7 linked regions of the Homo sapiens genome follow. The protein of the gene in region 3 interacts with the protein of the main gene of each other region in a biochemical or structural test. Each region holds a gene or a part of one and is shown on either strand. Other genes may lie near its edges. The genes, in order: BCAP31, PLA2G4B, CASP8, DEDD, OGT, ATG4D and TNFRSF10B.

What was found.
Region 1: of the proteins of CASP8 (region 3) and BCAP31, one has a biochemical effect on the other in vitro, tested with the Homo sapiens proteins (2 studies listed by BioGRID, with this or other methods).
Region 2: of the proteins of CASP8 (region 3) and PLA2G4B, one has a biochemical effect on the other in vitro, tested with the Homo sapiens proteins (one study listed by BioGRID).
Region 4: the proteins of CASP8 (region 3) and DEDD form a complex in vitro, tested with the Homo sapiens proteins (2 studies listed by BioGRID).
Region 5: the proteins of CASP8 (region 3) and OGT form a complex in vitro, tested with the Homo sapiens proteins (one large-scale study listed by BioGRID).
Region 6: of the proteins of CASP8 (region 3) and ATG4D, one has a biochemical effect on the other in vitro, tested with the Homo sapiens proteins (one study listed by BioGRID).
Region 7: of the proteins of CASP8 (region 3) and TNFRSF10B, one has a biochemical effect on the other in vitro, tested with the Homo sapiens proteins (one study listed by BioGRID).

What each region holds. Positions count from the first base shown.
Region 1 is NC_000023.11:153,717,462-153,721,595, forward strand, and holds part of BCAP31 (B-cell receptor-associated protein 31), read right to left. Parts: intron 3,512-4,134; coding exon 3,411-3,511; intron 1-3,410. UniProt on the Homo sapiens protein: Functions as a chaperone protein. Is one of the most abundant endoplasmic reticulum (ER) proteins.
Region 2 is NC_000015.10:41,845,127-41,849,159, forward strand, and holds the end of PLA2G4B (cytosolic phospholipase A2 beta), read left to right. Parts: intron 1-76; coding exon 77-194; intron 195-511; coding exon 512-649; intron 650-816; coding exon 817-921; intron 922-1,076; coding exon 1,077-1,256; intron 1,257-1,542; coding exon 1,543-1,709; intron 1,710-2,210; coding exon 2,211-2,397; intron 2,398-2,522; coding exon 2,523-2,734; 3' UTR 2,735-3,017; downstream 3,018-4,033. Other genes in the region: JMJD7-PLA2G4B protein, read left to right, coding at 77-194, 512-649, 817-921, 1,077-1,256, 1,543-1,709, 2,211-2,397, 2,523-2,734; SPTBN5 (spectrin beta chain, non-erythrocytic 5), read right to left, coding at 3,490-3,502. UniProt on the Homo sapiens protein: Calcium-dependent phospholipase A1 and A2 and lysophospholipase that may play a role in membrane phospholipid remodeling.
Region 3 is NC_000002.12:201,273,790-201,277,923, forward strand, and holds part of CASP8 (caspase-8 isoform 2 precursor), read left to right. Parts: intron 1-1,099; coding exon 1,100-1,164; intron 1,165-1,733; exon of another isoform or gene 1,734-1,847; intron 1,848-3,037; coding exon 3,038-3,179; exon of another isoform or gene 3,180-3,753; intron 3,754-4,134. UniProt on the Homo sapiens protein: Thiol protease that plays a key role in programmed cell death by acting as a molecular switch for apoptosis, necroptosis and pyroptosis, and is required to prevent tissue damage during embryonic development and adulthood.
Region 4 is NC_000001.11:161,125,758-161,129,891, reverse strand, and holds part of DEDD (death effector domain-containing protein), read left to right. Parts: intron 1-4,134. UniProt on the Homo sapiens protein: A scaffold protein that directs CASP3 to certain substrates and facilitates their ordered degradation during apoptosis. May also play a role in mediating CASP3 cleavage of KRT18. Regulates degradation of intermediate filaments during apoptosis.
Region 5 is NC_000023.11:71,539,200-71,543,333, reverse strand, and holds part of OGT (UDP-N-acetylglucosamine--peptide N-acetylglucosaminyltransferase 110 kDa subunit), read right to left. Parts: intron 1-4,134. UniProt on the Homo sapiens protein: Catalyzes the transfer of a single N-acetylglucosamine from UDP-GlcNAc to a serine or threonine residue in cytoplasmic and nuclear proteins resulting in their modification with a beta-linked N-acetylglucosamine (O-GlcNAc).
Region 6 is NC_000019.10:10,542,188-10,546,965, reverse strand, and holds the start of ATG4D (cysteine protease ATG4D isoform 1 precursor), read right to left. Parts: upstream 3,063-4,778; 5' UTR 2,876-3,062; coding exon 2,641-2,875; intron 2,258-2,640; exon of another isoform or gene 2,230-2,257; coding exon of another isoform or gene 2,184-2,229; coding exon 2,100-2,183; intron 2,010-2,099; coding exon 1,836-2,009; intron 128-1,835; coding exon 1-127.
Region 7 is NC_000008.11:23,041,314-23,045,447, forward strand, and holds part of TNFRSF10B (tumor necrosis factor receptor superfamily member 10B isoform 1 precursor), read right to left. Parts: intron 1,931-4,134; coding exon 1,825-1,930; intron 1-1,824. UniProt on the Homo sapiens protein: Receptor for the cytotoxic ligand TNFSF10/TRAIL. The adapter molecule FADD recruits caspase-8 to the activated receptor.

The sequences.
Region 1 (4,134 bases), on a different chromosome or scaffold from region 3:
GGGTCTCACTCTGTCACCCAGGCTTGAGTGCAGTGGCACGATCCCAGCTCACTGCAACCTCCACCTCTCAGCCTCCCCAGTAACTGGGACCACAAGTGTGTGCTACCACACTCAGTTAATTTTTTCTTTTTCTATTTTTGGTAGAGACGGGGTTTCGCCATGTTGCCCAGGCTAGTTTCAAACTCCTGAGCGCAAGCAACTGCCTCAGCCTCACAAAGTGTGGGGATTACAGGCGTGAGTCAGGGCACTGGCCTCATGGGGTTCTTAATTTCCGGTTTTAGGCTGCTTAGTTTTTATGTTGATCTTGCATTATAAAAATCTGCCCATCCCTCAGCACCACGAAGCGAGTACTCTCAAACGCTGTTAGCAGGGGTAAAAACAGCACACCTGTATAAAATGCAAAATGTTCATACCCTCGGGTTCAACAATTCACCTCTGAAATTATCCCACAGAAGTATTTGCATAAATTTGCAATGATTCGAAGATGCTTATAAAGAATGGATTACGGCACAACCACATGAGAGAATACTACATGATCTTTAAGAAGAATGAGATTGCTATAAAAAGATGTTGGCCGGACACAGTGGCTCATGCCTGTAATTTCAGCACTTTGGGAGGCCGAGGTGGGCGGATCACTTGAGGCCAGGAGTTCAAGACCAGCCTGGCCAACACGGTGAAACCTCGTCTCTACTAAAAATACAAAAAATTAGCCGGGCATGGTGGCGGGCGCCTGTAACCTGCAGCTACTCGGAAGCTGAGGCAGGGGAAATCGCTTGAACCTGGGAGGCGGAGGTTGCAGTGAGCCAAGATGGCGCCACTGCACTGCAGTCTGGGCAACAAAGTGAGATTCCATCTCAAAAAAAAAAAAAAAAAAAAAAGATGTCTAACGTGCAGCAGGTAGAAAAAGCACAATCCAAAGTATTGGCTAGGCTCTGCTATGGACAGCAGTCTTATCTCAGAGCTGTGCTACCAGCTCAGGCGTGGAATGCTCCTCCTGCCATGTCCCAGCAGGAATGTGGAAAGAAACATAAATACTTTGTGTGTATGATCCCACCGTTGTAGACATTTTATTAAAGATGTCAGCATACAAAACCCCTCTGGAAATGCACAACAAAATACTCATGATGGTTACCTGTGGGAAATGGGATTATGGGGAGTTTAACTTTCTAAATTCAACTTTTGAATTTTTAAGAATAATTACCCATTATTTTTGTAATCAGAAAAACAAGATAAACATGTTTCCTTACACTGTCACCTGCATCCAGGAACCCCACCATCCTAAGGACCACCTTGGCCAATGACCAATAGTGGGGATGGGGGACTGAGCAATACTAACCCAAGTCCCACAGTAGAAACCAGCCCTCCCTGTCTCGGGCCTCAGCCCAGGTGGGAAGATCCTGCACCCTCAGCAACTCCATCCTCCAGGAGGATCTGCTCAACCCTCCCCACCCCCAAGCAAGGCCACAGCTCTAGCTAGTTATGCCCCTTACCCTTCACTAGTACCTGTGACTAACACTTCTGTTTGAAGAAGGCTCTGCAGATCTTTCTAGATTATGCTTCTTAACATGGGAGTAGGAAGCAGCCAGTCATCATGGCCATATGTCCCCCTAGAACTTCCAAGCAGTTCCCCGATCCCAAAAAAGAATGAAGGCTTTGTCAACTACTGGATTCCGCAAAGGATCTCTCCAGCCCACTCAGCTGCTCTAGGAAAGAAACATACTCCTTCTGGTTTGGGGAAGGGGCAAGACCCTGAGGGAATCATCCTCAGCATGGTCCCTCCCCTCCCCAGTTATTACCCCCACCCCAGACCCAAAAGCCAAAACACACATGCTCAGTTCAAAAACTCAGTGGCCTGGGGATGACACATATATTACCTACCTACTCCTGGCTTGGAGGCTGCTCAGGGCGAGAACCCTGGTTAGAAAGAGCTACTACCTCTTGGGGCCTTGCCAAGTATTTCAAGAACACTGAGGTGCTCAGGCAGCTGGCACCTACCCTATGTGGTTGGAAGCTGTCAGGTAACACTTGGCCTGTTCAGAGGCAGTCCAGCCTGAACATATCCTATCAGGCTCTGAGACATCAGGAAGGAGAAATGCCTAATGCTGAAGCTGGTGGGTGAGGCTTTGCACATTCCCCTGAACCACAGCCCCCCACCCGCTCAGTGTTTCTGCTGGGACTCGGTGGGAGGAGTGTTCCACGCCTAGGCAGGCACCACAGCTCTGAGACAAGAGTGGTGTCCACAGCAGAGCCAAGCCAATACTTTGGAGCCCAAACAGGGGGACATATCGATCACTTACCACAGCAAAACAACAAACATCTACCAGTCAGACAAGAGCTTTATTGATTCTTGTCTCCAGATGGTCACCCTACCACCTCATTGCAAAATGTCTGCCTTTCATCTTACCACCACCTGGCCTGGCCTTATCCCAGAGCCTGCTTGCCCTTGGACCAGTTTATCTTTCAAGCACCTGCTAGTGTACACCTCAATGTCAGAGTTTACAGAACTACAGAGCTGGAACGACCTGGGAAAACCTCAAGTCTAGCCCAGATGCAGAGAGGTCTAGGATCTCTCCCCAAGATATGCTGCCACACATCTCTGTGTTCTCCTCCTACTACTACAGGGAATGGCAGGACTTCACTGTGTGCTTGGTTGCTCAGTCCCCCATTAGAGGCCCTGCTCCAGGCAATTCTGCTGTTTAAGTGACTGGTGAGCAGCACTACTCAGACCAAGGTCACAGGCCAGTTAGCTTCTCTTGGCTTCAGTTCTAGAGTGACCTGAGGAGCAGCCTCAGAAACCTTAGGCGTCCCTCCTTCCAAGGTCTTGAAAAAAAGCAATGTAAGGTGGCCGTCATAAGCTGCATACAAACTGCTTGGTATAAGCCCACGCCCACTGCTAGAGGGGCCTCTTTTTTTTTTTTTTGAGATGGAGTCTCCCTCTTGTTGCCCAGGCTGGAGTGCAATGGTGCGATTTAGGCTCACTGCAACCTCTGCCTCGTGGGTTCAAGCAATTCTCCTGCCTCAGTCTCCCAAGTAGCTGGGATTACAGGTGCCCGCCACCACGCCCAGCTAATTTTGTATTTTTCGTAGAGATGGGGTTTCACCACGTTGGCCAGGCTGATCTCGAACTCCTCATCTCAGGTGATCCACCGACCTCAGCCTCCCAAAGTGCTGGGATTACAGGCATGAGCCACCATGTACGGCCTAGAGGGGCCTCAAAGTGAAGAACCGACTAGCGGTCAGCAGCATGGGCAAAGGGAGCCTCTTCCCTCCCTCAAGAGAAAGACACAGCATTTCATTGGTCTGTCTCCTAGCAGCCAAAACTGGATGCTACACATCAAAAGTGGCAAAGGGTTTTGCAGCAGAGACCAGGGTCTAGGTCAGGTAGCTGCCCTCAGCCATAGCTCACTCACCGATGACCAACAGCACAAGGATGACAATGAGAACCACAAAGAAGGTGTTGCCATAGGACACTAACAACTCCACCAGCCGGGACTTGAAAATCTTCTGCCATCTGTGAAGAAGACAAAAAGGACAGGAGTTGAAGAGAAAGCACACACACGAGCTCTAGGGCCCTGAGCAAAATGGAAATCCAGCTTTGTACTCTTCTCCAATGGCCGAATAGCCCATGCAAAGTCAGCCTCAGTGGCTTGCAATTCTCTAATTTGACATCCATTCAAGACTATTGGAAAAAAGGCCAGGTGCAATGGCTCACACCTGTAATCTCAGCACTTTGGGAGACCAAGGTGGGTGGATCACTTGAGGTCAGGAGTGCAAGACCAAACTGGCCAACATGGCGAAACCCTGTCTCTACTAAAAGTACGAAAATTAGCCAGGCGTGGTGGTGGGCACCTGTAATCCCAGCTACTCAGGAGGGTGAGGCAGGAGAATCACTTGAACCTGGGAGGCGGAAGTTGCAGTGAGCCGAGATCGCGCCACTGCACTCCAGCCTGGGTGACAGAGCGAGACCTTGTCTCAAAAAAAAAAAAAAAAAAAGATGCTGGTCCACGTATAGATCAAAATGTCTGGAAAACTAATCTTTTTTTTTTTTTTTTGAGACAGAGTCTTGCTCTGTTGCCCAGGCTGGAGTGCAGAGGTGTAAGCCACCGCGCCCAGCCTGGAAAACTAATCTTAAAC
Region 2 (4,033 bases), on a different chromosome or scaffold from region 3:
GTGCTGGACAGCAGGGTGGGAAAGGCCCTGGGCACCCAGGCCGCTGTGGGTTTAGGTTCTACGCATCTTTCCCCAGCCCCATGATCACAAGCTCTCAGATCAACGGGAGGCCCTGAGTCATGGCCAGAACCCTCTGCCCATCTACTGTGCCCTCAACACCAAAGGGCAGAGCCTGACCACTTTTGAATTTGGGGGTGAGTGGCCCAAGAGCTGAGACCTGTGCCCTTGCAGTTGGTGGAATAAGGGGAGAACGAGGACTGTGTGCAGATTGCAGATGTCACACCCACCTCTCCTGAGCCAGGTCCCGTGCTTTCTGGAGACCGGCACCCTACCAGGGTCCCTCAGCCCTTTGGGAAGGAGGCAGGGGCCTTAGGTCCTATGCACGAAGCCCAGGCCACAAGGCCTGGGCCTCCTGGTCCTCAGCTGCCCTAAAGCAAAACCCTGGGTCGGGGTGGGGGTGTGGGTGCCTAAGGGCTCTGCACCATGAGGCTGAGGCGTGGACTCCTCACAGAGTGGTGCGAGTTCTCTCCCTACGAGGTCGGCTTCCCCAAGTACGGGGCCTTCATCCCCTCTGAGCTCTTTGGCTCCGAGTTCTTTATGGGGCAGCTGATGAAGAGGCTTCCTGAGTCCCGCATCTGCTTCTTAGAAGGTGAGGGGCACTGGCAGGCTGGGGAAGCTGGGCCGAGCAGGGAAAATGGGTCCTGGGTGAGAGGGCAGCCTCGGTCAGAAGAGTTTCCTGGGCCAGGACTGGCCATGGGGAAGGGTAGGATTGGGACAAGAGTCGGGGGCCCTCTTCCCTCACGGCCGCTCTTTCAGGTATCTGGAGCAACCTGTATGCAGCCAACCTCCAGGACAGCTTATACTGGGCCTCAGAGCCCAGCCAGTTCTGGGACCGCTGGGTCAGGAACCAGGCCAACCTGGGTAAGTGCTCCGGGCCCTTCATAAGGGTGCCAAGGGGCAGCCAGCTGGGGCTGCACCAGGGGGCGGGGGGTTCACACCTCTTCCCCCTCCAGGGTCACCACCAAGGTGGGGATAAAGGTGCAGGAGTCCCCATTTCCCCCACCTTGCCTGTGTAGACAAGGAGCAGGTCCCCCTTCTGAAGATAGAAGAACCACCCTCAACAGCCGGCAGGATAGCTGAGTTTTTCACCGATCTTCTGACGTGGCGTCCACTGGCCCAGGCCACACATAATTTCCTGCGTGGCCTCCATTTCCACAAAGACTACTTTCAGCATCCTCACTTCTCCACATGGAAAGGTACCTGCTTCTCTCCAAAGTCCTCCTGTGGCCACCTGAGCCTTGAGTCCCCAGTCCAGATACCCCTCACAGTCCACTCCCATTCTCCTGCTTTGAGCTTGATTCCCTGGACTACTTGGAACAGGGGTCTTTTTCTCCTTGTCTTGGGGACCCAGGGCCCACCTGCAGGGCTGTGGGGGTGTTGGTTCAGCAGGAGAGCAGGGACCAGAGGCCAGAGTCTCTCCTTCCAGCAGGAATCTGGTACCCTTGGTATCTGTGACAATTGCTGCTCTCCCCAACCTTCCAGCTACCACTCTGGATGGGCTCCCCAACCAGCTGACACCCTCGGAGCCCCACCTGTGCCTGCTGGATGTTGGCTACCTCATCAATACCAGCTGCCTGCCCCTCCTGCAGCCCACTCGGGACGTGGACCTCATCCTGTCATTGGACTACAACCTCCACGGAGCCTTCCAGGTTGGGAAGGGTGGGCAGCCCACCAGGGAGGCGGTGGGTGGCCCCTGTCCCCTGAAGAGAGGGGCTTTGGAGTCCAGTGTCTGGTTCAGCTTCCTTTAGGAGCTGTGATTGGGACACTGGAATCTTAATTTGCCACCAGAGGAGCTCATTCTTTTCCGGAAGTTGGGAGGCTGGCGAGGTTCTCCTGGTATCTTGTAGCTGGGTCCCCTTTACTGACCTGCGAGGTGTGGTCCTGGGCCTCTGGGCCCACCTGCTGAGTCTGCTTTGGCTCCCAGTGTCAGAACTGGAATGCTGGGAGTAACCCGGCTCCGTCTAGCCCCAGAGGAGCTGCCACCGAGGCCTGTCAGGTGTGGAGAGTTTTTTTCCAACGACTGGCTTCATAGGCCCCACTGGAGACCGTTTTGGCATTTGAGCCCCAGGTCCTGTGCATCTTACGTCAGCCCCAGTGTTGAGGATGCCAGGGGCCCTGTCCCTCTGAAGCCCCTTCTGCCTGCCCTGCAGCAGTTGCAGCTCCTGGGCCGGTTCTGCCAGGAGCAGGGGATCCCGTTCCCACCCATCTCGCCCAGCCCCGAAGAGCAGCTCCAGCCTCGGGAGTGCCACACCTTCTCCGACCCCACCTGCCCCGGAGCCCCTGCGGTGCTGCACTTTCCTCTGGTCAGCGACTCCTTCCGGGAGTACTCGGCCCCTGGTGAGCTGCTGTTCACCTCCCCATCCTGCTGCCCCAGTCCCCCACACCTCCTCCGTCCCCTGTGCCTCTCCAAACCTGTCTTCCCCACAACGTGTTCCCCATGCCAGGCTGCACTCTCTCCACAGGGGTCCGGCGGACACCCGAGGAGGCGGCAGCTGGGGAGGTGAACCTGTCTTCATCGGACTCTCCCTACCACTACACGAAGGTGACCTACAGCCAGGAGGACGTGGACAAGCTGCTGCACCTGACACATTACAATGTCTGCAACAACCAGGAGCAGCTGCTGGAGGCTCTGCGCCAGGCAGTGCAGCGGAGGCGGCAGCGCAGGCCCCACTGATGGCCGGGGCCCCTGCCACCCCTAACTCTCATTCATTCCCTGGCTGCTGAGTTGCAGGTGGGAACTGTCATCACGCAGTGCTTCAGAGCCTCGGGCTCAGGTGGCACGGTCCCAGGGTCCAGGCTGAGGGCTGGGAGCTCCCTTGCGCCTCAGCAGTTTGCAGTGGGGTAAGGAGGCCAAGCCCATTTGTGTAATCACCCAAAACCCCCCGGCCTGTGCCTGTTTTCCCTTCTGCGCTACCTTGAGTAGTTGGAGCACTTGATACATCACAGACTCATACAAATGTGAGGCGCTGAGACCATCTGTTATTACTGCTGAGAAGGGCCATGTCATTCTAGGCTCTTGGCTGTACATGGCAAGGGCTGGTACAGAGCTCGCTCATCAGTGTTCTTCCTCCGAAGAGCACATTCTCTGCACACGTCTGCGTCTACCTGTGCTCAGAGTCACCCCTTCCAAGCAAGGAGGAGGCCACATGGGCCTGGGGTAGCCCTGGCCTTGCCCACCTGCTCTGCCGTAACACGTCTCCTCTTCACCCAGACAGGAATGCAGGGGGAGGCCAGGCAATGGCTGTTTCCTGCCACATGGTAGGACCCATCTAACCAGAAGGAACTGTCTATTCCAGAAGCTGGGCCTGGGGAACTGGGTTGAAGCAGCCACGGGAAGGAGCCCTTTTGCCTGTAGCTGAGTCTTATTCTGGTCCCTTAGATGTGTCCTCGCTTGTGCCCCTGAAGTTTGGTGTTGCACTGGGGTTCACCTCAGGGATCAGACCTGTTGGGAAAACGGAATGAATTTAGTAGGGTATGGCCACCCCAGAATCTTCTCCAAACAAACACACACTGGTGCCCCTGCCCTCCCCTGGACCAGCCAGCCTCCTAGAATAAGCGTGGGAGTGGATTCCAGAGCTGACTGACAGGCGCTGCAGCAGCGACCACAGTGACGCGTGAGTGGGTGGGAGTTGCCTCGACTTTCATAACCCAACTCTACGTCTGTCAGCTGGCCTAGCAGCCCCAGCCCTGGGTTAGAGACAGCAGAAAAAATGGCTGTCCTGGTAGCCTCAGGAGCCACTGTGTCCAGGACAAGGCCTGTCCCGTCAGCAACACATCATCTAAATCATATATTGGGCTCTGCAGGACTGGGAGCAGATGGTTACACTGGAGACCACAGCCGTGGCTGCCACCCCTCATGGTATGAGCCCTCCAGGCACACGGCTGTATATGCGTGTGCACATCTAGGCACATCCTGGCATGGGGCCCATGCACGGAGGATTTGCCTGTCTCCAGTCCCTCCTCCACTTTCACC
Region 3 (4,134 bases):
TCAACCCCCTGAGTAGCTGGGACCACAGGCACAAGCCACCATGCCCGGCTAATTTTTGTATGTCTTGTAGAGATGGGGTTTCGCTATGTTGCCCAGGCTGATCTTGAACTCCTGAGCTCAAGCCATCCACCTACCTGGGCCTCCCAAAGTGCTGGGACTATAGGCAATTAATAAAGTATTCTTTCTGATTAGAAAAATTATATACACTAATTGAAGATTATTTTAAATTCAGAGAAATTTTTACAAGTCCAAGAACACCATCACTCCATTCATATTATGAATATTTTTATTGTATTTTTACGTTGGCTCTTTGTGGTGTGTGTGTGTAAAATACATTTTGGATCACTCAAATGTATTTTAAAGATTAATGTCTATGCAGGCTGTCCTTCCCTTTCCCCTCTGCCTGCTGAGCCTAAGGCCTTAAGAATACTTTAAGGAGTAAAGTACTAAATCATTAATTCATCCTGAGCTAGTGGCTTTATTAATGAGTATCTCACAAATACCACAAAAATTCAACCTGGCCATGTGGAGCAATATAAAATTATGGCATTTCTTGGTATGTTTTTCTCTTTGGCGAGGAGACAACTTGATCTTGTGTTTCCAGAAGCATGTTAATTGCCCTGCTTGCAGAATCTCTCTGGCTTGAAAGGAGATTATATTCATGGCAGTCTGTGAATTTTCATTTTATTTCATTTATTTATTTGAGACAGAGTCTCACTCTGTTGCCCAGGCTGGAGTGCAGTAGTGCGATCTCAGCTCACTGCAACCACTACCTCCCAAGTTCAAGTGATTCTCCTGCCTCAGCCTCCTGAGTAGCTGGGACTACAGGTGGCTACCACCACGCCCGGCTAATTTTTTTGTACTTTTAGTAGAGACAGGGTTTCACCATGTTGGCCAGGCTGGTCTTGAACTCCTGACCTCAAGTGATCTGCCCATCTTGGCCTCCCAAAGTGCTGGGATTACCGGCGTGAGCCCCTGTTCCCAGCTTGAATTTTCATCTTAAAAAAGACCTTATGTTGTCCTATGTGCTACATATTTCATTACCAGTGTACCTTTCCTGCCATGTCTCATTCTAGATGTGTCTCTTCGTTGTTTGCAGGGGAGGAGTTGTGTGGGGTAATGACAATCTCGGACTCTCCAAGAGAACAGGATAGTGAATCACAGGTAGACGGAAACCTCCAAATCCTTTTTTTTACATTACAGATTCTAGTTATTTAATTTGTTAGCTTTTTTTTTTTTTTGCTGCCAGATAAACTGACAAGGGGCAGAAACTTACTGAAAATTTTGAGAACTGTAGAAAAAATTCACACAAAAAAAGTTAAAAATGTGACTTAATTTTTAAAATGTGACTCCTTCAGTTTTCTATACATTTGAATTTTATTTTAAGACCCGAGATGAAGATACTGGAATAGTTGGAGGGTGGAGGGGGTAATAAGCCTCCTACCAAATCTTCTAGCAGCCGTGCCAGCCTGGATGGGGGAGTGGTTTGGAGAAAGAGTCTAGCAGGAATGGAAAAAGCCAAGCCTTTTCCTTTAGCTTAATGTTTCAAAAATGCTTCTCCTTGGTGATGAGGTGTAAGCAGCAAACTCTCACAATCTAGCCATCTCTGTGTTTTTGTCTCAGTGAACCAGCAGAAACATGTAATTTTTAGGCATAATAACTTCTCTTTATGTAATCAACAATCCACCAAATACATCCTGACTTATTAGACGATCTGCTCCTCCTCATGGTAGGAAGAAGAGGAAATCCTGAATATCTGAAGTAGGCTTGAGAGAGATTATTCACTAGTGTGGGCTCCTGAGAAAATTACCAGACCTCTTTCATCTGAAAGTCAAGGATTAACCCAAGTAATGTGGTACTTTCTAAACAGTATAGCATGCTACAAGCATTGTCCCCACTGAAGAGCTAAAAACACTGTCTTAATATCTTAGTAAATCTTAGTATCTTTTTCCTTTTTTAATGTTTTATTGAGACAGGGGTCTTGCTACGTTGCCAAGCCAGGTCTCGAACTCCTGGCCTCAAGCAATCCTCCTGCCTTGGCCTCCCAAAGTCTGGGATTATAGGTACTAGCCACCGTGCCTGGCCAAATCTTAGTGTCTTAGTATCTCAGTAAATACACTTAATATGCTTAATAAATACTTAGAACACAACTGTAAATAATAAAAACTTAACATACTTGGTACAAACTTAATCAAATATTTAATATCTTAGAGTTAACATATTAAGATAACAGGTTATTTGCCCAAAGTCATAAGGTGAAGTAGAGGCAGGAATTGGGCTTCCTAGCCTGGAGTCCTTTTCTCCACCTCAAGGGGCTACGCAGACCTCCAACTAAATGCTGAGTTTCTCGGTACTGAAACAGCCCTAGGAGAATGAATAGGACACAGCGCCATCCCTGGCCAGTACTATCAGGTACTACAGTTTGGATACCATAACCTACAGTGTAGCCAGGACCTCCCTGACCAGCCCATCTCTTCCCAGCAGCCACCGTGGTCCTGAGAGCTGGGTTAAGCCATCACCTTTAAAATCCTGGGACCACACTGTGCAATGCATGAATGGGAGACCCTCAGCTGTTAGCCACGAAGCACAGATGAGTTCAGTAGACAGCCAAGAGAATCACAAGTCATGGCGTGGGGGCAGCCAAAGACATTCATTCATTCAGTGACTCTTGATTGAGCTCTCACAAGTTAATACACCGTAGTCCCTGGCACAGATGTTATGAACCTCAAGGAGTCTTCTGTATAGTATGGGAAGCAGAAATGAGAACAAACAATAATACAATGTGATGACAACAATATTAATATATGTGCAAAGTGCTCAGGAGGCCCAGGTATTGGGACACTGACTTTACAACGATGGGGCAGAAGTCTGAGAGGTCCTGTGTGAAGGAAATAGGTAGAAACTAGTTCTTCGAGGAAACGACCCCGAGTTGGGGTGGTGCAATGGAAAGCAAGTCCTCTTACTAGGGAGTTGTTTGTTTACATCTCTAGTGTTTGACCCACAGAGTCAGCTCCTGGGTTGGGTTTTTGTTTTCCAGACTTTGGACAAAGTTTACCAAATGAAAAGCAAACCTCGGGGATACTGTCTGATCATCAACAATCACAATTTTGCAAAAGCACGGGAGAAAGTGCCCAAACTTCACAGCATTAGGGACAGGAATGGAACACACTTGGATGCAGGTACAGTAGAACCCAAAAGAGAAAAGTAAAATATTTCTTATGCCTATTTTTTTTTAAATCAAAAGGGAGAGAACAAAAGCTATACCAAAAGGGCCATGTTTCAAGAAAATGGATTTAAACATATTTCCCTGTGGAGGTAAAGAACATTCTTATACATTTATCAGTTTCCTGCTTTTTTTAAAAATTAATTTTTTAAATAAAAGTAATGTATGTATAAATATAAAATATCAAATCTTACTAAAAGACATAATGAAAAGCAGTAATAAGCTTTGTTTTGAATTCAGCTAAATGCATAGCGCTTCTGTGGAATGTATTAGGCGATGAAATTGCTGTGGTATCAAAGTTCTTATAGAGGCTGCATTTTTACAGGTTGGGCTGTTAAGTGCAGCAGAAATTGTGGGTTCTTAACAGAAATAGCATTTTCAAGTATTAAATATTAAACTGGTTAGCAATTCTTTTGCTCAGCCAAATTAAGCTAAGATCAAGAACTTACAAGTTAAATGAAAAAACAATTTGTAGTATGTGAATATAAAAAGTGACTACAACAACAAAAAATAAAAATCATCCATCACCATTGAGAGATTAATAATTTTGATTTGATCAAAGAACTTTTGGAAATAGTGTTTATCAGGCATAACATCAATTATTGATTTGTTTTGCAAATGGAGGTAAGTTTAGAAAATTAATGTAGACTGATTATAATCATCAGGAGTCTGTAATGGCCCCTATTAACATTTTTTTTTTTTTTTTGAGACAAAGTCTCACTCTGTTGCCCAGGCTGGAGTGCAGTGGTGTGATCTCAGCTCACTGCAGCCTCCACCTCCCTGGTTCAAGTGATTCTCCTGCCTCAGCCTCCCAAGTAGCTGGGACTACAGGCACACACCACCACACATGGCTAATTTTTGTATTTTTAGTAGAGATGGGGTTTTGCCATATTGGCCAGGCTGGTCTTGAA
Region 4 (4,134 bases), on a different chromosome or scaffold from region 3:
CAATTATTCTTGGGAAACTGTAGGGGAGAATTCATGTGTTACTATCTCAAATACAGCCAGACCAGTCAGTGGGATCAGGACTTTCTGTGTGCTGGAGTTTCGTCTCTTGGTATTTGGCAGTGTTTCAGATACCAAGACTTGAGTTAGTTCTAATTTTCTGTTCAGAGGGTTACATTCTCCTCACCATTCTGATACCTGTCATCTAGAATCTCTGTATGTTTTAAGTTGAGCTCCCTTGCTTCACTGTCACAGAAATACGAGTATATTTTGGTTTTAGAGGAAATTGGTCATGTTTTCTTTTCTAATTTTACTAATCAGCTGAACTTTCATCACTTTTTTTTTTTTTTTTTTTGAGGCAAGGTCTCACTCTGTACCCCAGGCTGGAGTGCAGTGGTGCGATCAGAGTAGCTGGGACCACAGGTATGTCCCACTATGCCCAGCTAATTTTTGTTTATTGTTTGTAGAGATGGAGTTGTGTCATGTTGCTCAGGCTGGTCTCGAACTCCTGGGCTCAAGCAGTCCTCCTGCCTTGGTCTCCCAAAGTGTTGAGATTACAAGTGTGAGCCACCATGCGAGGCCTCATCACATTCTTTTAATGTTAAAGTTAGATAGATTCTTGGAACCCTTATCTGGGTTGCATTAAGTGGAGAGGGCTGCCTCTTAACCTGCATGACAGTATCCTCATATTTCTCCCAAGCACATGGCCTTGAGGAACTTACATATTTCTATGTTTGCTTCATTGAATAAGCAATATAAGTCTGATTAGTGACCTCACAAGGAGAATTTGCTGCTCATCCAGTTCCAAGACTTTAAAGATGACCCTGAGGCTTACGAGCAGGATCCTTTGTGTCTGTCTTGCAGAGGATTACATTTCTAATATCCCCATAGAACTCCAGATTGAACTAGGTCAAAGTAGACCTCCTGGGATGGGGCAGAAGTGGATGTAGAACTACCACCTGTTCCTCAGCTGAATGGCAACAGCAGGTGACAGAGGACCCAAGGTTGGAGTGGCATGAAACACCTTAGTGCAGTTGGACTTGGGAGTTAAATGAACATGTATGTCCGACAGGCTTTTCTTTTCTTCTGGAATGTTGTTTGATGGGTTTGGATGGAGGGACCAGATGGCTTTTTCTAGATCTAGTGTGGAAAGTGACATGCATTCTTTTGACCCTTTACCATGCTCCACCTAGAATAGGGTTTCTCATCCTTGGCATTATTGACATTTTGTGCTGCATGATTCTTTGTTGTGGCAGACTGTTCTGTGCATTACAGGATGTTTCTTTTTTCTTTTGAGACAGGGTTTCACTCTGTCACCTGGGCTGGACTGCAGTGGCGCTATCACATCCCACTGCAGCTTCGACCTCCCAGGCTCAAGCGATTCTTCTACCTTAGCCTCCCAAGTAGCTGGGATCACAGGTGCATGCCACCACGCCAGGCTAATTTTTATATTTTGCATAGAGATGGGGTTTCACCATGTTGTCCAAGCTGATCTCAAACTCCTGGGCTCAAGTGTTCCTCCCACCTTGGCCTCTCAAAGTGCAGGGATTACAGACGGGAGCCACTGCACCTGTCCTATAGGATGTTTCTAAATATCCCTGGCTTCTACTCATTACATGCTGATGGCAGTCCCCTTCCCCACCAGGCATAATAATCAGAAATGTCTCCAGACATTGCCACATATTCCCCAGGGGTCAAATTTGCCCCTGGTTCAGAACCACTGACCTAAAAGCTATTATAATTCCTAGTACATTGATGATCTAGCCTGGGATCTAGGACTTAAAGGTGGCTAGTGTGTTTGTTTCCTCTCAAATGTAGGGAGTTAACTTCAAAGGATTGAAGCTTATAGAATTACATCCATTGATACATAATTAGGACCACAGTGCTTTCCTGTATTTTGCCTTATTTTCCATTGCGAGGGTATGTGGGGACAGTGTTTCTTCATTTCCTGGGGTTTAAGCACACTTTAAATTAGGGAACTGTGGAGCAACCAGCTCTTCTGGTTGGTTTAATGTGAAACCTACCCAATCTGCTTTATCTGAGAGCCTCACAATCAACAGCTGGCCCAAGGGAACAGGTGGGATAGGGAACAAAGAGAAGTTGCAGGGGCTCTGAGGAGGCTCAGTTTTCTCATGTTGCCTGCTATGAGCAATAACTTATTTTCCTTTAGCACCTTCATTTGTACCCAGTAACAGCAACAGGTGAATCGAGAGGAAGAGGCAAGGAATACCAGTCTATAGTTGAATAGCTATTTCCCATGCTTTGGGTGGGGCATCTGGGCTCTCAAAACTATATATGGATTACATTTCCTGTCTACATATCAGAACCCATGGTATAGGGTTAAGTGATCCCAGAGTGTACCTCCCCTTTTCTTAAGGGAATGAGTTTCTCTGTGCTTTCATTTTAGTTTTTCATCTGAGGAAGAAAGGACCAGTTCCTACTTACTCTTCAGCTTTCTCTATCAGCTTTGTTTTTCCAAAGAAGCTTATTATTTTATTGTTTCCTAGTCTAGCCTCAGTTCCTTTTTGTATAAAATGGACAGAGCAACCTGTTTAATTGTTGAGTAGGGTAGAGTGGTGTGGTATGGTGTGGGTAGTTCTGGACATTGCAGAGGAGGCTATGGCTAGTTAGAATATATGCATGGTAACTGAATTACCTGTATCTGTTTTTAATGGGGTCCTCTCTTGGACTTTTGTGAATTTGTTTCTTAATTGGAATTGCTTGAGGTGATCTCTTGGAGATTAAGTTCAGTTCAACAGTGGGTTGCTCCCACTATATTTGAGGCTCTGTCCATTACTAGGCACTAGGGATATAAAGATGAATATATCTCTCCATGAGTTGAGTAGGATCTAATGGGATAATAAATACACAAATAATTTTAGTACATGGTGATAAATGGTGTAAAGGAGATATGCATAGTGTTCCATAAGCGCACAGAAGAGGACTACTTATCTCTGCATGGGGGTGTAGAAAATGCATTTTGAAGATGGCATCTGAGCTGACTCTTAAAGAATGAGTAGGAGTTAGCCATCTGAAAAAGAGTGATGATGGGGGTGTGGAATAGAGAAGGGAGAGGGGCATTCAGGCAAAGAGAAGAGCCTGAAGAAGGTATAGAGAAATTGCATGATGTATGTGAACTATAAACAAACTGATAATGTTAGAGAATAAAAAGCGGATGTGATGGGAAATGAGGTTGGGAAGGTAGGCCTGATCTTAGAAGGCTTGATGTGTGTGTAAAGAATTTGGAGTGTTCGGCCAGGCGTGGTGGCTCACACCTGTAATCTCAGCACTTTCGGAGGCCGAGGCAGGCGGATCACAAGGTCAGGAGTTCGAGACCAGTCTGGCCAATATGGTGAAACCCCGTCTCTACTAAAAATACAAAAAGTAGCTGGGCGTGGTGGTGGGTGCCTGTAGTCCCAGCTACTCGGGAAGCTGAGGCAGGAGAATCGCTTGAACCTGGGAGGCGGAGGTTGCAGTGAGCCAAGATCGCGCCACTGCACTGCAGCCTGGGCGACAGAGTGACTCTGTCTCAAAAAAAAAAAAAAAAAAAAGAGTTTGGAGTGTTCTTATAGATAACGATGGGGCAATCAATGGGTCTGAAGCAGGAAAGTGACTTGGTCAGTTGTGGACTTCAGACAGCTAACTGAACTAGATGTGGCAGTGGATGGATTTAGGTAGGTTAAGATTGGTGTTGCAGAGAACTTTTAAAGTTACAGTAGTCCAGGTGAGAGATTATTGTAATCTGAACCATGGCAGTGGAGGTGGAAAGGTAGGATAGATTTAAGAAATATCTAGAAGTAGCATTAACAGGAATTTAGGATTGATTGTGTGATTGGAGAGTGTGACCAGAGAGTGCACAGTATAGGATGGTACTGTCTGGTGGAGCAGTAAGTATGAGTGACTTGAGTCAAAGTTGTTGAATTTGGGAATTGATTAATGGCTGCGTCATTGGTATTACCTGTAGCCCATAACGATGGAGGAACTTTGTGAATCAAGAGCCAAACTATATAACGAATGTGGAGCTGTGATTGGTCATTGATAGGGGATTGGTAAATGACATCCATGAGGAAAGCTTAGAAGGTGGTATTGCCAAGGCCAGGTACGGTGGCTCACGCCTGTAATCCCAGCACTTTGGGA
Region 5 (4,134 bases), on a different chromosome or scaffold from region 3:
TTGTCAGTCACATCTACCAGTCAACAGGCAGAAACAATGACAACAGGAAGTATGCTTATTATTCCAAACTGTTCCATGGGTGAAAGAGACTTAAGTCCTAGAAAGTGAAATTTTGTCAACTGTGCCGAAAAATCATCATATATATGATTTGCTCTGGAACTATATTATGGTTTCCAAAATCACTTAATTCTACTGATAAACAGCTTTTGTGGTTGTATAGTATCATCCATCAGGTGAACCAAAAAGTCTGCCAACAAAGTACAGGCTGCCACACAACAATCTTACGGTCAGCCATACTGGGTCAGTTCCATCATCTCCCTGACTCAATACTGTCCTTCAAGCAATGACTGATGTTCTAGAGAGTAAGGTTGTCTCCCATCACTTCAAGCACAAAAGGCTAATACTAATCCTCAAAACATCAAAGGTACCATTAATCTTATTTGACTTCTCCTCTAATTAGCCTGAGCACTTTTTAACACTATACTCTCAGAAGTAATGAATTATATAATCTTGCTATCTACTTTGTATGGTTATGTTTTTTTCTAAACTGAAAGGGTTACCCCTGTTTTGGCAGACCATGACTGCATAATCCAATCCATGCATACAAGCTCCTTCTACTACTTGATAATTGTGGTTATACATGTTTGGACTTTTACCAATTCCTATGCCTTTTCTAAGTCATAATAATCAGAAGTCTTGCAATAATTCTCCAACAATGACTGTAATGGCCATACATAGTAGCCAGCTGTTGCGTAATTTTATTACCCTCTAGTTTCTATGAACTCTTGGATGGATGCCACTTAAGTCCTGACAGCATATCTATATTTTGTTATCATCTAGATCCATTACAGTATACTATATCAAGTTAACACAATGCTCATAGTTAAAAATACATTATCTTCAAGATTACTATAAGATAATCAATAAGGCAGTTTTAGGAAAAGCTAAAACATCATATTAAATGTAACGGTGAAATCCAATTCTCCTGTTTGGGGATCCAAACCTATGTGCATGAACAGCTAATTTCTAGAAAACGCACGGGCACCACCATTCTCCCAAAAGTTCAAAACCCAAGACATCACTTCTGCTTCATCTGTCAAATCAAAATGTTTTTGACAATTATATTTCTCAAAACTAGCCCATTTTATCCATCCCAGGTTAATACATTTCAGGCAAACTGTTACTCAATTCAATAACATGCCTGGAACTATAGGGAAAAGATATAGAATCCTTATCATCAAGGGGCTTACAATCTATGTGAAAAGACAAGGCACACACTAAATGCCCACTCAGTAGTAAAGAATTTTAAGAGAACTAGATGATGAGCTCATAAGAGAAGTTTAAGCTGGGCCTTGAAGGATGAGTAGGGTTTTAATAGACAAAGGAGGAGGGCACTGTATACAAGGGAAAATCGTGAGAATAAAAGGAGATAGAAATGAGCAAGATTTTCCTGTAGAACTATTTCTCCTAAGATTGCATCAGTTTCCTGCCTTTCCTCCTAGAGCCTCCCACCCCCACCAGCCACAACATCTAGACACGTACATACATATGAAGTAAAATCAGGTCGATAAAAACCTACAGTAATTCTCAATTGCCTCTCAAATTAAATTCAAACTCCTCAGCCTCTCTATTCTTTATAAATCTTCCAATTGACTCTCCTCTACTACATTCACTTCTTGTTACTACTTGACTCACCACTTCAGCCAAGGAAGTCTACTTGCTATTTACCTTCCTACAGAATGCTTAGGTCATAAGCACCCACTCGAGGAAATCTTCTGATTAATACTCTCCAACAATTATCATCCAAGGAACTTACACCATTTTTTCCTTTACGGGTCAGGTCCTGTCTTATATTATAACCCGCAACTTCCCCCACAACACATCTCCCCATTTCCTAACAAAGCATTGTATGCACAATAAGCACTCACATATTTAAATGTGACATTTGCACAGCAACCTTAACAAAAAGCAGAACAGAGAAGAATCGAAATATACAACAGAAAGCAGAACAGAGAAGAATCGAAATATATGGTTTTCTACAGTGCAGCTGTATAAGAGAGGCTCAGCAGTAACAAGTAACAAATAACATGACAGGAACACACATGATGGCCAGGATGCCAGCAGCTCTCCATTCTGTGCATCCACAATCAAAGCACAAGCAACAATTCAACAACCTATAGATTCAGAAACAGACCTGTTTAAAACAACTCAGGGTTATAGCCGTTACAGAAAGGACAATTTTATACATAATTTGCAAAAGGAATTGCCAGGTATAGGCAACTCTAGTGAGTCACCATGTCAAAGAACATGTGCTGTCACTGCAAGGTGCTATCTGCAATAACACCTTCAAATACAACAGACTGCCAGGCACAGTGGTTCACGCCTGTAATCCCAGCACTTTGGGAGGCTGAAGCAGGCGGATCTGTTGAGGCCAGGAGTTCAAGACAAGCCTGGCCAACATGGTGAAAGCCTGTTTTTGTAAAAATACAAAAAATTAGCCAGGCATGGTGGTGGGCACCTGTGATCCCAGCTACTTCGGAGGCTGAGGCAGAAGAATCGTTTGAACCCAGGAGGCAGAGGTTGCAGTGAGCCGAGATCGCGCCACTGCACTCCAGCCTGGGTGACAAGGGCAAAACTCCGTCTCCAAAAAAAAAAAAAAAATGACAGACTAAAATCTTACCAAAATTATGAAAACACCCAACATTATAATTATAGAAGATAATTCAGAATGAAAAAAATGAGATAGCTGTCTCAAAGATAATTTCTATAATCAAGTCACAGAGAACAACTTCTAAATTGACATATCTATTAACTTAAAAAGATAAACACTGTTGAAAACAGTTACCAAGGTTACCAAAGATACCACCTTAACATTCTACTCTTTCACTGCTGCAAAACCAAAATAACCTGAGTTTCTTTAACCATTTTTCATAGAATGCCAACTACATCTATGATTCAGGTACACAATGTACTAATGATGCATTTAAGCACTGTCAACAAGAACATAAGGAACAGACGCAAGGTTCTACCAGTACTGAACTGACAACGGGCATTTGACAGTAAGTTTAAATCTAGTTAAGACTTTAGATATCCTGAAATAAATTAAAATATGATCACTATGGCATGTTTAGTTGAAATCAAGGGAACTTGCACAATCCCATTTTCATTCTTATTGGTAAAAACAGTAATAAATAAGTAAAGCAGCACCTTCCACTAGAAGAAACATAGAACCAGATGACAACACATGGCCATTCAATGCATTCAAGAGGTAATCCCATGATTTATTTTAGTACTATCTCACTTCCTTGGTAGGGTACAACAATAAGCTTCCTGCTAACAGCAGGTTAGATATTAAATAGCAAGGTTCCATCTCTCACTTTAGTTTTCCTTCTCAGCATAGTCCTACTGCTTGGGTACACTATCAGTAGCAATGACTGCTCTGCTACACACATAGGCAACTGGAAACCTGAGCCAAGGGCATTAGAGTTAAAGATGGCAAGAACCACAGCTGTGTAAGAGGGTACACTATCAATAAGAGTAGAATCAACCTGATTAATAAAGGTAAAGAACTTACTGTGACAACTGGGTACAGAGGTGAGCCCTGAGCCCTGGGAAAAATGGGGTCCAAGGCCCAGTGGCAGTACATACCAGGCTCCCTAAAACTTTATGTGGGTAACTAGCTAGATTAGTATTGCAATAAAACTTACAAAAAGTCACTCAAATGTACATATATATACACTGAGTGTCTCAGAAAAGATAGACAAGAAATTAGTTTCATTTGCTACCTCCAAGAGTGCTAACTGGAGGTATTCACTGTATCCATTCAAAAACCAATAAATTTAGAAGCTGGGTGTGGTGGCACACACCTATAGTCCCAGCTACTCTGGAGGCTGAGGCAGGAGGACTGCTTGAGCCCAGGAGTATGAGTACAGCCTGGGCAACATAGCAAGACTCCATCTCTTAAAAAAAAATGTTTTTTAAAGCAATGGATTTTCTAAAAAGGACACGTTTAAACTCTCAAAATTAACTACAAAAATTGTTAATAGATATCATCATGAGAAGTGACTTCGGATCTTTGAACAAACTACTAAATTTAGTTTCAGTTTCCTAACCAAAAAATAAGGGACAGCAAAA
Region 6 (4,778 bases), on a different chromosome or scaffold from region 3:
TCCAGCTCAGGGGCACCCTGGGCCCAGCGTGGGGGCATCCAGCGGGCAGGCCCATGGTACCGGCTGGGAGAGGCTGACCCTGACAGCTCAGGGGGGCCCAGGCCCATGCCCTCGGCCCATGTCCAGTCTGGTGGAATGGAGCACATAGTCAAACAGTGCTAGTGTGTGGGGGGCAGAGGTCCCATCTACACATGCACCGCACACAATGCGAATGCTCCTGAACCCCGTAATTCAACAGAATTTACATATTCCTGAAACATATACTTATCCTTATTTATTTATTTATTTTTTGTTACTTAAAGACAGGATCTCAGCCAGACGCGGTGGCTCATGCCTGTAATCTCAGCACTTTGGGAGACCAAGGCAGGTGGATCACTTGAGGCCTGGAGTTCGAGACCAGCCTGGCCAACATGGTGAAACCCCTTCTCTGATAAAAAAAAAAATATACAAAAAGTAGACAAGCGTGGTGGCGGGCACCTGTAATCCCAGCTACTCAGGAGGCTGAGGCAGGAGAATCGCTTGAACCTGGGAGGCAGAGGTTGCAGTGAGCCAAGATCTCTCCACTGCACTTCAGCCAGGATGATAGAGGAAGACTCAGTCTCAAAAAAAAAAATAATAATAATAATAAATAAAATAAATAAATAAAGACAGGATCTCACTGTCATCCAGACTGGAGTGCAGTGGCACAATCACGTCTCACTACAGCCTCTAAATCCTGAGCTCAACAGATTCTCCCGCCTCAGCCTCCTGAGTAGTTGGGATCACAGGCACATGCCACCACACTCAGCTAATTTTTAAAATTTTTTTGTAGAGACAGGAGCCTTGTCATGTGGCCTAGGCTGGTGTCGAATGCCTATGCTCAAGCGATCCTCCTGCCTCAGCCTCCTAATGTGCTGGGATTACAGGCATGAGCCACCACACTCGACCTGTTATTGTTGGAGTCTCATTCTGTCACTCGGGTTGGAGTGCAGTGGCAGGATCATAGTTCACTGCAGACTTGAACACCTGGGCACGAGCAATCTTCCCACCTCAGCCTCCCAGGTAGCTGGGATTACAAGCATGCAGCACAGTGCCCAGCCAAAACTCTTTTTTTTTTTTTGAGACTGAGTCTCGCTCTGCCACCCAGGCTGGAGTGCAGTGGCACGGATCTCGGCTCACTGCAACCTCCGCCTCCCCGGTTCAAGCAATTCTCTGCTTTACCTTGCCAAATTACAGGTGCCTGCCACCACACCCAGCTAATTTTTGTATTTTTAGTAGAGATGGGGTTTCACCATCTTGGCCAGGCTGGTCTTGAACTCCTGACCTCATGATCCACCAGCCTCAGCCTCCCAAAGTGCTGGGATTACAGGCATGAGCCACCGTGCCTGGTGAAACTTTTTTTTATTTTTATTTTTGACACAGAGTCTCCCTCTGTTGCCCAGGCTGGAGTGCAGTGGTGCGATCTTGGCTTGCTGTAACCTCCGCCTCCTGGGTTCAAGAGATTCTCCCACCTCAGCCTCGGGAGTAGCTGGGATTACAGGCGTGTGCCACCACAACCGGCTAATTTTTGTATTTTTAGTAGAGATGGGGTTTCATCATATTGGCCAGGCTGGTCTTGAACTCCTGACCGCAAGGGATCCATCCGCCTCAGCCTCCCAAAGTGCTAGGATTACAGGCATGAGCCACCGTTTCCAACCCCGGCTGAAACTCTTATAAACAACTCTCATCTCTCCAAAACTTACTTGACACACAATTCTAACGTGACTTTGAACTCTTAGTTGGTAAGTAATTCTAATACTGCTGATATGGCAGTTGACCCTGTACTCCTAGTGCACCCCTTCCCCCCTATGGCTCACCTCTGGGCAGGAAATGCAGCAGAAGGCCCTGTGCCAGCATCATCTGGCCGCTGCGTAACATGCACCCCCAGCCACAGTCCGAGGTCAGGCAGCCCCCAGGAAGGGGCGGGAAGTCCCGGCGGTATGTGAGCCACAGGCGGGACACAAAGTCCCGCTGGAAACGCTGTATGTCACCTACAAGAGCGGGTCTGTCAGCTGCCACCAGGGACACTCCGGCGGGCGTGGAGAGGCCTCCCCCAGCCCTGGTCCCAACCACCAGCTCACCCTCGCCCTCGAAACGGTAGCGGCGGCCACAGAGGTGGATGCTGGAGATCTTGCTAAAGCTGGTCCGGCTTTTAACCACCCAACCTGGGGAGACGTAGGGGCAGCGCCCAGCGAGATGAAGCACTTGCATGACAGCAACAGCGCTTCCATTCCCCCATCTGTGAAATGGGCACGATCCTAGTTCCTATCTCCGGGGTGGCTCCGGGGATTCCGTCGGAGGTGGGGCCCCCAGTGACAGCTACAGGAGTGTCCACCATCAATTCAGGATGAAGGAAGGTAGTTCTGATTATTGTACCCATTTTACAGAGAGGGGCAAAAACGGAGGCGCCAGGAAGCAAAGGATCTTGCCCAAGGTCACACAGGGGAATGGGCGGGGCTTGAAAACACTATTGGACCTGCCACAGGTCCACCCTGGGCCGGGCAGGGAGGGGACCCACAGGTGACTCAGGACGGGAACAAGGGTGGGATAACTGGCAGGACCGGGGTCTGGTTTTCCTCAACGGCCCCCGACACCCCCACGATCTCCGGGCCCCCTCCTCACCGTACTTGACGTTGTTCCAGGCTGTCAGGAACTTGGCCTTGAACTTGTCCACTTCGTCCGGCTCACTCGGGCCAGCCCCGGGAGAGCCAAGAGCGGGGCCGCTGGCTCCGGAAGGCCCCAGGCCGTTGGGGTCTGGGCCTCTGGGACCCCGCGGCCTGCGGGCCTCGGGCCGGCGGCGCGCGTCCTCCGGGCTGCTGCTCCGGTACTGCGCGGCGGCCGGCGACACTGAGTTCATGGACGCGCCGGGAGGGCGGACCGAGGGCCCAGGTGGGGGGCTGCGGCCGCTGCCCCCCAAGGGCGACCCGCAGCCGGTTCACGGGGCCCGGGGAAGGCGCTACTCGGCCCCCGTCCCCAGGGTACCGGGCCAGGCAACAGCCGCCGCCGCTGCTACCGCAGCCATCGCCATCTTAGCGGGCCAGGACCCCGGATGACGGTGGGCGTGGCCAAGCCAGACGCCCCGCCCCGCCCTCTCCCCGCCCAGCCGCCTTTCCTGCCCCGATCCCGGGTCGCCAGGCGGGGACCTCAAACCCCGACGCCTTCCCGCGGCCTCCCCCCGCCCTCCTTATCACACCGCCAGGAGCGCGACAGCCCCTTCAGGCCCTTATCGGAGGCAGCAGAGCTGGGGAACCCCTGCCCCTGGCCCCGCCCCTAGTCCTGCCCCCCAGGGCCCAGGACTGACCTCCTGGCAGGCGCCCAGGTGAGACTGACTGCGCACCTGCAGCGCCCGCCCCGCCTCCCGAGTGCACCTGCGCGGGCTGCCGACCCAGAACCCGCCCTGGCCTGGGACCAAATCGACTAGTGTGACCTCCGGGGCAAGCCACGCCTCTCTGTGCCTCAGTTTCCTCATGTGCAAAATAGGGCTGGAATACACGCAACAACATAGACGAATCTTCATGAGAATTATGCTCAGGGAAAAAAAATCCAGGGGTAGGCAGGCGCGGGAGGGAGGGATGAATGAAGTGCTCCAGGAAAGTTTTTTTCAGTGTTTGTTTTGTCGAGACAGCATCTGGCTCTGTTGTCCAGACTGGAGTGCAGTGGCGCTTTCATAGCTCACTGCAGCCTCCAACTCTGATCCTCCAACCTCAGCCTCCAGAGTAGCTGAGACCGCAGACAGGAGCCACCATGCCTGGTTAATTTTTTAAATTTTATTTGTAGATAAGGGGTCTCGCTATGTTGTCTAGGCTGGTCTCAAACTCCTGGCTTCATGAGATCCTCCCGCCTCAGCCTCCCAAATGCTGGGATTACAGGCGTGAGCCACCACCTCAGGCAGGAAGACATTTTTTGGAGCTGTGGATAAATTCAGTATCTTAACTGTAATAGTGGCTTCACAGGTGTGAAAACTCATCAGATTGTACGCTTAAAATTTGCATGGTTTTGTATATGTCTATTATACCTCAATAAGGCTGAAAAAAAACCTCTTTGTTTTAAAAAGTAATCAGTTAACTTTTTATAGAGACAAGTTCTCTCTATGTTGCCCAGGCTGGCCTGAAACTCCTTAGCTCAAGTGATCCTCCTGCCTCAGCCTCCCAAGTAGCTGAGACTACAGGAAAATATTTTATTTTATTTTATTTTTTAATTTTTTTTCTCTAACCTTGCGAGGCCCAAACAGATTTTGGTTGTTGTTGTTGAGACAGGGTCTTGCTCTGTCATCCAGACTACAGTGCAGTGGCCTGATCATGGCTCACTGCAGTCTCAACTGCCGAGGCTTAAGCAAGTCTCCTGCCTCAGCCACCTGAGTAGCTAGGACTATAGGCACATGCCACCACCCCTGGCTAATTTTTTTTTTTTTTTTTGAGACGGAGTCTCGTTCTGTTGCCCAGGTTGGAGTGCAATGGCGCGATCTCGACTCACTGCAAGCTCTGTCTCCCAGGTTCACACCATTCTCTTGCCTCAGCCTCCCGAGTAGCTGGGACTACAGGCGCCCGCCACCACGCCTGGCTGATTTTTTGTATTTTTAGTAGAGACGAGGTTTCATCGTGTTAGCCAGGATGGTCTCGATCTCCTGACCTCGTGATCCGCCCACCTCGGCCTCCCAAAGTGCTGGGATTACAGGCGTGGGCCACCGTGCCTGGCCACCCCTGGCTAATTTTTAAAAATTTTTCTGTAGAGATAGAGTCTCCCAGTGTTGCTCAGGCTAG
Region 7 (4,134 bases), on a different chromosome or scaffold from region 3:
CTCGAAGTGCTGGGATTACAGGTGTGAGTCACTGCGCCCGGCGTTATATGGGAATTTTTATTAGAATTTTGGACCCAGCGCAGTGGCTCACGCCTGTAATCCCAACACTTTGGAAGGCCGAGGTGAGAGGATCGCTTGAGCCCAAGTGGTTGAGGCTACAGTGAGCTATGATCCTGCCACCGCACTCCAGCCTGGGCAACAGAGTGAAATCCTATCTCAATCAGTCAATCAATCAATCAATCAATGTATAATTTCCCTAATCTGTAAGAATTCATGTGACTCAATGATTTAAAAAAAAAAAAAAAAAAAACCTAACCTCTTACTAGGAGTGAAGAAAACCTAGGAGAACCAGTGTACAAACAGTGTCTGTGTCATGAACAGATTCTTGACCTCATTCACAGGAAGAGAAATGCACATTTCGAGGAGTTTCCACATCTCAGTCCTTGACACTTGCTATGGCCTGCTCCCTGTGGCTGGAAGGGCCATCTCTCCTCTAGGATGGAAGTTCTCCAACTGCTCCTGCTCAGCCCATTGCAGTCCTGTCTCCCTGGCCTATCGTCTCCAACTTCAAATCCTCATGGGCTCAGTTGTGCCCCTCCTCAGTATTTACAACTTCTTCCAGGTGGACACACTCAAGACAGCGGCTTCAAGCATCACCTATGTGCTAGGGTCCCCAAATGTGTACTGCTAGCCCTGCCACACACTGTCCCCTCAGAGGCCAAGTTACCCTGAGCAGTTGAATTTGGTGCCTCGATTGTCCTCATTCCCCACACGTCATCCATCCACACCCCAAATATGTCTTGAGTCCTTCCTATTCCCGTCCTGCTTCCTGGTCTTGACCCTGGACCACAGCAATAGGAGCATTTACAGATGAGTTTGTGTCTGCTTCACGCTGGGTTCTTCCTTCTCCATGCTCTGCTCCTGGCAAGCCCACATGTGCAATGTGAGGGTTTGCCCTCAGGCAAGCCTTTCCTGTGGCCCTTAGTCATGGAAAAGAAATGCAACTTTGTAAATGGATTTTAAAAGCCACTGCTTGCCACACTTGCCTGCCCTGGAAACCTTCATGCAGCAATCAATTCCTAACTCATACACATGGGGGAAAAGGGGGAAGAAGTGCGAGGCGAACACAACAGTCAAGCACACTTCAGGCCAGGTTCCTGCTGCATCTCTGGGGGCTCAAATGACCTTACGGGACACCACATAACATCCCAGGGGAGCGCCTCACACTCAAGGCCCTCCACCTGCTTCCTGTCTTGCTCCGGTTCAGTCCAGGAGTGGGCACTCAAGATGTACATCCGATGCTGGTGGCCCTCTGCTGAAAACTTCTCAGGGACATCCATCACTCATGAAATAAAATCCAGCTTCATCTGTGTGGGATCTGACCCCACGTGTCTCTCTAACTTCCTAACCCTCCACTCCCCACAGCAGCCCCCTGCTGTTGCTCCATCTTCTCCAACTCTTGCCCCCTGGCAATTGTTCCAGTGGAACCCTCCTAGGAGCACTCTTCCTGGCTCTCTGAACCTCTGGCCCTGCCCTCCTCCGGATGTCAGCCCAAAGTCACCATTGCCTGGAGGCCTCACCAGCCCCATCTCTGTCCCACTCAATTCTCTCTCAAGGTTCCTATCAGTTTCTTTGGCTGTCTCATTCATTTGTGTGTCTTGATACCATCCTAGCAGGAAGGCTCCAGAAGGACAGAGCCTTGAACTGGAGGCACCCAATGCCTCTCTGTGGAATAAAGAACAAGGAAGTGCAAAGGAAACAGACTGGAAGCTCATGGAGACAAGGGGAGGAGGGGCAAGGATTAGAGACCCATCTTGAACATACCAGGTGGACACAATCCCTCTGAGGGGCTGGACCTCTTTTGTTGTGGGGCCGCTCTCTGCTGGGGAGCTAGGTCTTGTTGGGTGATCAGAGCAGACTCAGCTGAGACCTGTGGGGACAAAGCAGGGATGGGCATGAGTGGCTTCCAGACCTCACCCCTCCCAGGATCCACTCACATTCTCTTGAGCCCAGGCACCCAAGCTAAACAGAACCCTCATCTTTCTTGCAGCTCTCACCTCTCAAACATCCTTTAGTGTTTGTTTGTCCCTTCATATTTCAGGGAAGGCCAAGTAACATACACCTGCAAAACTCTTCTAAACATGTTCATTCCAGAAAATGTGGGCAAGGAAAGTTTTTACAAGAATACACAGACCACACGTGATATTCTCAGCTAAAGATAGCATCCATTAATATTTTGTCTCATTTAGTTCCACTATTTTTCCATAGGTATGCCTATTCTCTCTTTCTCTCTTTCTCTTATTCTCTCTCACACAGACATACACACAGACACACATTTTTATAAATGGGGGTTATAATATAGCAAACTTAAAAAATTGGGATACAGGATCAAACATTAAATAGTGAACTTCTGATTTAAAAGGTGCCTGACATATAGACCAGAGAGCCCAGAAATGAACTTGCACGTACAACCATGTATTGCTCAACATTGTTCTGAGCAAAGGGTCATTAGGCAATTGTGTTGTGTGAACATCAGAAGAGTGTACTTACACAAACCTAGATGGTGTATCCTATGACACACCTGGCCTATATGGTATAGCCTTTTGCTCCTAGGCTACAAACCTGTGTAGCATGTTACATAATTGCATGGAGCCACCATCACATATGCAGTCTGTTGTTGACAGAAATGTTGTTATGTGGTGCATGACTGTATATGATCAAGTAATTTTTGGCAAAGGTATAAAGACCATTTAATTGAGAGGACAATCTTTTTAAAAATGGTCTTGGGAAATCTAGACATTGACTCATCACAAAACAATGACCTCGGACCTTTAACTTACACGTATACAAAAATTAACTCAAAATGGATCCAAAATCTAACATAAAAGTGAAAACCCTAAAACTTAGAAGAAAACATAGGAACTATTCTTCCTGACCTTGGATTTGGCAATGATTTCTTGAATGTGATCCCCAAAACACAAGCAATATAGGAAAAAAAGTAGATAAATTGCACTATGTAAAAATTAAAAACTTTTGTGCATCCAATGATGATCAACAGTGAAGGGGCAACCCACAGGAAGAGGAAAACATTTGCTAGTTGTATATCTGATAAAAGGTTAATATCTAAAATATATAAAAAACTCCAACTCAACAACAACAACAAAAAGCCAACAATGTGATTAAGAAATGAACAAAGAACTTGAATGGTAACAAGCTCCTGAATAGCCAATGTGTCAAAGAGGAAATCAAAAGGGAATTTTAAGAGTATATTAGAAAATGAAATGGAAACATAACATAACCAAATGTATGGGATGCAGCAAAAGCAGTTTTAAGAGGAAATGGCAATAAACGCCTACATCAAAAAAGAAGAAAGATCTCAAATACAAGACTTAATGTTGTACCTCAAGGAAATAGAAGAAAAGATACACTAAGCCCACAGTTAGCAGAACAAAAGAAATAATAAAAATCAGAGCAAAAATAAATAGAGACTGAAAAAAATACAAAAGATTATCAAAATTCTGTTAGTTTTTTGAAAAAATAAATGAAATCACTAAACTTTAACTAGACTAACTAAGAAAAAAGAAAGAAGACAAATAAATTAAATCAAAAATGAATGAGGAGGCCAGGTGCAGTGGCTCATGCCTATAATCCCAGCATTTTGGGAGGCCGAGACGGATGGATCACTTGAGGCCAGGAGTTGGAGACCAGCCTGGCCAACATGGCAAAACCTCGTCCCTAATAAAATACAAAAAAAAAAAAAAAAAAAAAAAGCCAGGCATGGAGGTGTGCATCTGTAATCCCAGCTACTTGGGTGGCTGGGGCACAAAAATCACTTGAACCTGGGAGGTGAAAGTGGCAGTAAGCTGAGATTGTCACACTGCACTCCAGCCTGGGCAACAGAGGGAGACTCTGTCTCAAATAAAAAAAAAAATGAGACACATTACAATGCATACCACAGAAATGCAAAGGATCATATGAAAATATTATGAACAATTATATGCCAAAGGATTGAACCACCCGGAAGAAATGGATAAATTTCTAGACACATACAACCTACCAATACTGAATCATGAAGAAATGGAAAATCCGAACAGACCAATAATGATTAAGGATATTGAATCAGTAATGAAAAGT